Linked DNA regions of Homo sapiens: region 1 is linked to region 2. The links come from fine-mapping of genetic effects on gene expression. A gene starts in region 2. The other region holds a variant in brackets. All regions are shown on one strand. Distances are between the middles of the regions. Region 1 overlaps TMSB15B-AS1 (TMSB15B antisense RNA 1). Region 2 holds the start of RAB9B (RAB9B, member RAS oncogene family).

Evidence for each region. PIP is the estimated chance that this variant, and not a neighbour inherited with it, causes the effect.
Region 1: its variant is fine-mapped to the expression of RAB9B in lymphoblastoid cells (GTEx, PIP above 0.99).

What each region holds. Positions count from the first base shown.
Region 1 is chrX:103,883,721-103,886,640 of GRCh38, reverse strand. The region is part of intron 4 of TMSB15B-AS1 (TMSB15B antisense RNA 1); the gene reads left to right. Among named protein-coding and RNA genes, the nearest start is that of TMSB15B-AS1, 34 kb to the left of the region's middle. The variant G/A (reference allele first, on the strand shown) is at 1,637.
Region 2 is chrX:103,830,948-103,833,867 of GRCh38, reverse strand. RAB9B (RAB9B, member RAS oncogene family) reads left to right here and starts at 1,611. Exons shown (of 3, transcript NM_016370.4): 1 at 1,611-1,808.

The sequences.
Region 1 (2,920 bases), 53 kb before region 2:
TTGTTGTCATTTCAACACTATTCACAGCACCTTCACCAAGAGTAGATGCCATCTCAAGAAGCTACTTTGCTCATCCATAAGAAACCACTCCCCCATGCTCATGGATAGGAAGAACCAATATTGTGAAAATAGCCTTACTGCCCAAAGTAATTTATAGATTCAATGCTATCCCCATCAAGCTACCAGTGACTTTCTTCACAGAATTGGAAAAAACTACTTTAAAGTTCATATGGAACCAAAAAGGAGCCCGCATAGCCAAGACACTCCTAAGCAAAAAGAACAAAGCTGGAGGCATCACGCTACCTGACTTCAAACTATACTGCAAGGTTACAGTAACCAAAACAGCATGGTACTGGTACCAAAACAGATATATAAACCAAAGGAACCAAACAGAGCCCTCAGAAATAATGCCACATATCTACAACTATCTGATCTTTCACAAATGTGACAAAAACAAGAAATGGGGAAAAGATTCCCTATTTAATAAATGGTGCTCGGAAAACTGGCTAGCCATATGTAGAAAGCTGAAACTGGATCCCTTCATTACACTGTATACAAAATTTAACTCAAGACGGATTAAAGATTTAAATGTAAGACCTAACACCATAAAAACCCTAGAAGAAAACCTAGGCAATACCATTCAGGACATAGGCATGGGCAAAGACTTCATGACTAAAACACCAAAGGCAATGGCAACAAAAGCCAAAATTGACAAATGGGATCTAATTAAACTAAAGAGCTTCTGCACAGCAAAATAAACTATCATCGGAGTGAACAGGCAACCTACAGAATGGGAGAAAATTTTTGCAATCTACCCACCTGACAAAGGGCTAATATCCAGAATCTACAAAGACCTTAAACAAATTTACAAGAAAAAACAACCCCATCAAAAAGTGGGCAAAGGATATGAACAGACACTTCTCAAAAGAAGACATTTATGCAGCCAACAGACATATGAAAAAATGCTCATCATCACTGGTCATCAGAGAAATGCAAATCAAAAACAATGAGTTACCATCTCATGCCAGTTAGAATGGAGATCATTAAAAAGTCAGGAAGCAACAGATGCTGGAGAGGATGTGGAGAAATAGGAATGCTTTTACACTGTTGGTGGGAGTGAAAATTAGTTCAACCATTGTGGAAGACAGTGTGGCAAGGATCTAGAACTAGAAATACCATTTAACCCAGCAATCCCATTACTGGGCATATACCCAAAGGATTGTAAATCATTCTATGATAAAGACACATGCACACATATGTTTATTGTGGCACTATTCACAATAGCAAAGACTTGGAACCAACCCAAATGTCCATCAGTGATAGATTGGATTAAGAAAATGTGGCACATATACACCATTGAATACTATGCAGCCATAAAAATGGATGAGTTCATGTCCTTTGCAGGTTAATGGACGAAGTTGGAAACTCTCATTCTCAGCAAACTATCACAAGGACAGAAAACCAAACACCGCATGTTCTCACTCATAGGTGGGAGTTGCACAATGATAACACATGGACACAGGGAAGGGATCATCACACACTGGGGCCAGTCAGGTGATGGGGAGCTGGGGGAGGGATAGCATTAGGAGAAATACCTAATGTAAATGATGAGTTGATGGGTGCAGCAAACCAACAT[G/A]GCACATGTATGCCTATGTAACAAACCTGCATGTTGTGCAGATGTACCCTAGAACTTAATGTATAATAATAATTTTTAAAAAAGAAACAACTCCTCATCCATTCAAGATTTATCAAGAGATTGCAGCAATTCTGCCACATCTTCAGGCTACACTTCTAATTCTAGTTCTCTTGCTATTTCCACCACATCTGCAGTGACTTTCTCCACTGAAGTCTTGAACCCCTCAAAGTTATCCATGAGAGTTCGAATCAACTTCTTCCAAACTCCTGTAAATGTTGATATTTTGACCTCCTCCCATAAACCATGAAAGTTCTTAATGGCATCTAGAATGGTGAATCCTTTCCAGAGGTTTTCAATTTTCTTTGCTCAGATCCATGAGAGGAATCAATATCTACAGCAGCTATAGCCTTATGAAATGTATTTCTTAAATAGTAAGACTTGAAAGTCAAAGTTACACCGTGATCTATGGGCTACAGAATGAATGCTGTGTTAGCAGGCATGAAAACAACATTAACCTCCTTGTATATCTTCATCAGGGCTCTTGGGTGACTAGGTACATTGTCAATGAGCCATAATATTTTGAAAGGAATCTTTTTTTCTGAGCAGTAGGTCTCAGTAGTGGGCTTAAAATATTCAGTAAATTATGCTGTAAACAAATGTGTTATCATCCAGGCTTTGTTGTTTCATTTCTAGAGCACAGGCAGCATAGATTTGGCATAATTCTTAAGGGCCCAAGGATTTTCGGAATGGTCAATAAGAATTGGCTTCGAATTAAAATCACCAGCTGCATTAGCCTCTAACAAGAAAGTCAGCCTGTCCTTTAAGTCATTGAAGCCAGGCATTGACTTCTCTCTATCTGTGAAAGTCCTAGATGGCGTCTTATTCCAATATAAGGCTGTTTTGTCTGCATTGAAAATTTGTTGTTTTGTGTAGCCACTTTCATCGATTATCTTAGCTAGATTTTCTAGATAACTTTTTGCAACTTTTACATCAGCACTTGCCACTTCACCTTGCACTTTTATGTTATGAAGATAGCTTCTTTCCTTGAACCTCATGAACCAGCCTCTGCTGGCTTCCAACTTTTCTTCTGCAGCTTCCTTATCTCTCTCAACCTCTGCAGAATTGAAGAGAATTAGGGCCCTGCTCTGGGTTAGGCTTTGGCTTAAGGGAATGTTGTAGCTTGTTTGAATTTCTATGGAGACAACTCAAACTTTTTCCATATGGGCAGTAAGTCTGTTTTGCTTTCTTATCATTCACGTGTTCACTGGAGTAACACTTTCAATT
Region 2 (2,920 bases):
ATTTATTGAGGTGCAAAAAGAAAACATTGGAACATCAATATATTTATTTTTCTCATTCTTTTAAAATTTCTGTGGAGTATTTTAATGTTTACTCATTAAAATGTATGTTTAAAGTAATGTGTAATGTATACATGTACAGTAGTACATGTATATAATCTATAAATCCTTATACATATGTTGGGGCCCATGCTCAATAGTTTTTTAATAGACTAAAATGTATGCGGAAAATTTGATTTAGAGGATTGTGTGAATCTCGTCTTCATCAGAAGAGTGTTTTAGAGTGTATGTGTGGGGAACGGGGTTGGTTTAAATAGGAGCACATGAGATTCAGTTACATCAATTTATTTTATTTAAATATAACAACTATTAGTGATACAGCATTCATTCATATTCAGCAAATATTTTCTGAGCATGTCCTATGCAGCAAGCATTGCCCTAGGCTCTGTGCATACGGTGGTGAACACAAACGTTGTCCTTGACCTCATAGTCCTTCCCCACTATAGTTTAGTAGGGAAGACAGCTGTCAACCAAATAATCATACACTTAAATGTACCACCAAAAATGGGTAAGTGTTATGAAGGAAAAATACAGCAAGTTACAGGAGGCTACAAGAGTATAAACTGGGGCACCATCTCTATTCTGAGATTATCGAGAAAGGTTATCCTGAGAAGTGACATTTAAGCTGGGGCCTGCGGAGATTGATTGCACGATTGCCTTGTCAAGAGACAGAGGAAGAGTGGCCTAGATGGAAGTAGCGGGTATGTGTGAGGGCCTGGACGGGGTCATGAGATGAGTGAGGGCCTGTGCCACAAGGTCACAGGGTTTCGGGCAATGGGGAAGCTTCAGAGATGGAGCTGCCTGACAGAGAGGTGGAGTGCAGGCTAAATGACCTCAGGAGCTTTGTCCTTCTTCAATTCCAGGGGGAAAATCACAAACTAGTTGGAAGTACCAGAGGGCTACAGAAAACAACAAAAAGAGACTAGCTGGTCGGCTAGGCACAATTAAAACATCAAATTCTGCCCCAGCAGCAATTCCGGGAAATTCAAGTAATGCCCCCTGTGTGGCCCTCTAGAACTGTATCTGGTAAGAGTAAAGGGCAGTGTGTCCTCTATGCCTGCGCTACAGATGTGGACATTTTTTTTAATTGCCTGAAAATTTCATAAGCTGTAGCCAGTTAGAGGGCCTAGCAATGTGTTGTGATCATGTGTTTTCCTGAGTTATTTGAAACAAGAGGGTGTATGTACTACCCTCTTGGCAAAATTAAAGGATTTTGAGCTAGGATAAATGAGGTAGATCAGAGGATAATTGCAGGAAGTGGGGCAGTGGCTAGCCCTGCTTGAGGGCTTAGGCCCAGGCTGCAGAGGAGCTAAGTGGAAGAGCAATATTTGACGGTCTATTGCCGCTGTGCCTACTAATCGGCTAGGGGAGGAGAAGGAGGACAAGGGAGACCAGGGTTGGACGATGAGCATGAAAGAAGAGTGGGCGAGCCAGGGAGCGCTTGCCACATGGAGGGCGGGAGGCGGCTACACCGGGTCCCCACCGCCGAGAAAGGGGCACGAGGAGGCGGCGCGGGCCCCGCCCCCTCCCCTGGCGGGCGCGGGCGCGGGCTCGAGACGCTGCGCGGCGGCAGCGGCGGGCGCGAGCGGCAGCTGTCAGGCCACCGAGGTCCAAGCCGCACTTGCTGCCCCATTGAGGACGAGGAGGCAGCAGGAGCAGTGACGGTGACTCTAAGGAGCCGGATTCCCGGCACGCAGAGCTGACCTGCCTGGCACCCGCGGCCCTCTCCTGTTTCCTTCCCATTGTGTTGGGTAAGGTGCCTGTGCGTGGGCAGGAACAGGGGCTAGGGGCTGGAGGACCCGGAAGGCCGGGAGGTGGGGGGCCTGTGAGAAGAGGGAGAAAGGAAAGTCTAGTTGATCCCCAGGACCACTCGTAGCTTGAGAAAAGGGACTGAGCCGCTCCCGAGGTCGGAGTCGGGGGCAGGTGACAGTGCAGGGGGGCGTTGCTGAGTAATCCCGAGCTGCTGCCAGAGCCGAGCAGAGAGGCGCAGGGCTCCGTGGGGAGCGGGTGTGGCTCAGTGCGCATGCGCCACAGCCGACTAGCTCTAAGAGCTGGGGGTGAGGTGAGAGGACCTGGGTCGGAGGTAGTTGGGACTATGTGTGACATCTCACTTTCTAGGTCCGTAATGCTAACAGTGCCCCTGTCGTAGAGATGCCAGCATTCTTGTCTCCCAAGGAAGCTTTTTTTCCTTGTGTTCAGCTCGCTTGATGTCATCCAAACCTTATCTACCTATCTGTCCCTGGGCAGTCTACTGAGGAAGAAGTGTCCTGGGGACGATGCCAGATTGCTATCTAGTGTGCCTTTGGGCTTATAGCCCTAGAGCTGTCGTTGTGAGCAGTGAAAGGTTAGATGTGGGACTCCACATTGGACCCTTTGAGTTGCATATAGGATATAAATGTGGGCATGAATGTAGGAATAGCGTTTCAGTGGCATGACAGCTGTGGCATTTGGAGTCGGCATGGATGTAGCTGATAACTTGTTAGCTCTGCAAAATGAATCCAGTGCGTCAGAGGGTTTCCGCGCTACGAAGCACCCACCACCAGCACCAACGCCAAGTATTGGGTTGTATTGGAAACACACTCAAACATTCAATCATTTCTCATCCGTGTTGAATTTTACATAAATATAGCCGCGCCCAATTCTTCAGTGCAATATTTCCAATTATTGTGCCAGCATTCAACAGTGAGTTGAGTAGCCCTTACCAGTGTGTCGCCACAAGATGGGCTTTCCCCACAGGTCCAACCATGGCTCCTCCCCTGTACAGACTTCCAACAGTGCCACTCTCATCCAGTGCCTAGCCCTCCCCAGTTGCTCTTCCCCTATCGATCCCTGCAGTACACATCCCTTTCAAGACTTGCCTCCG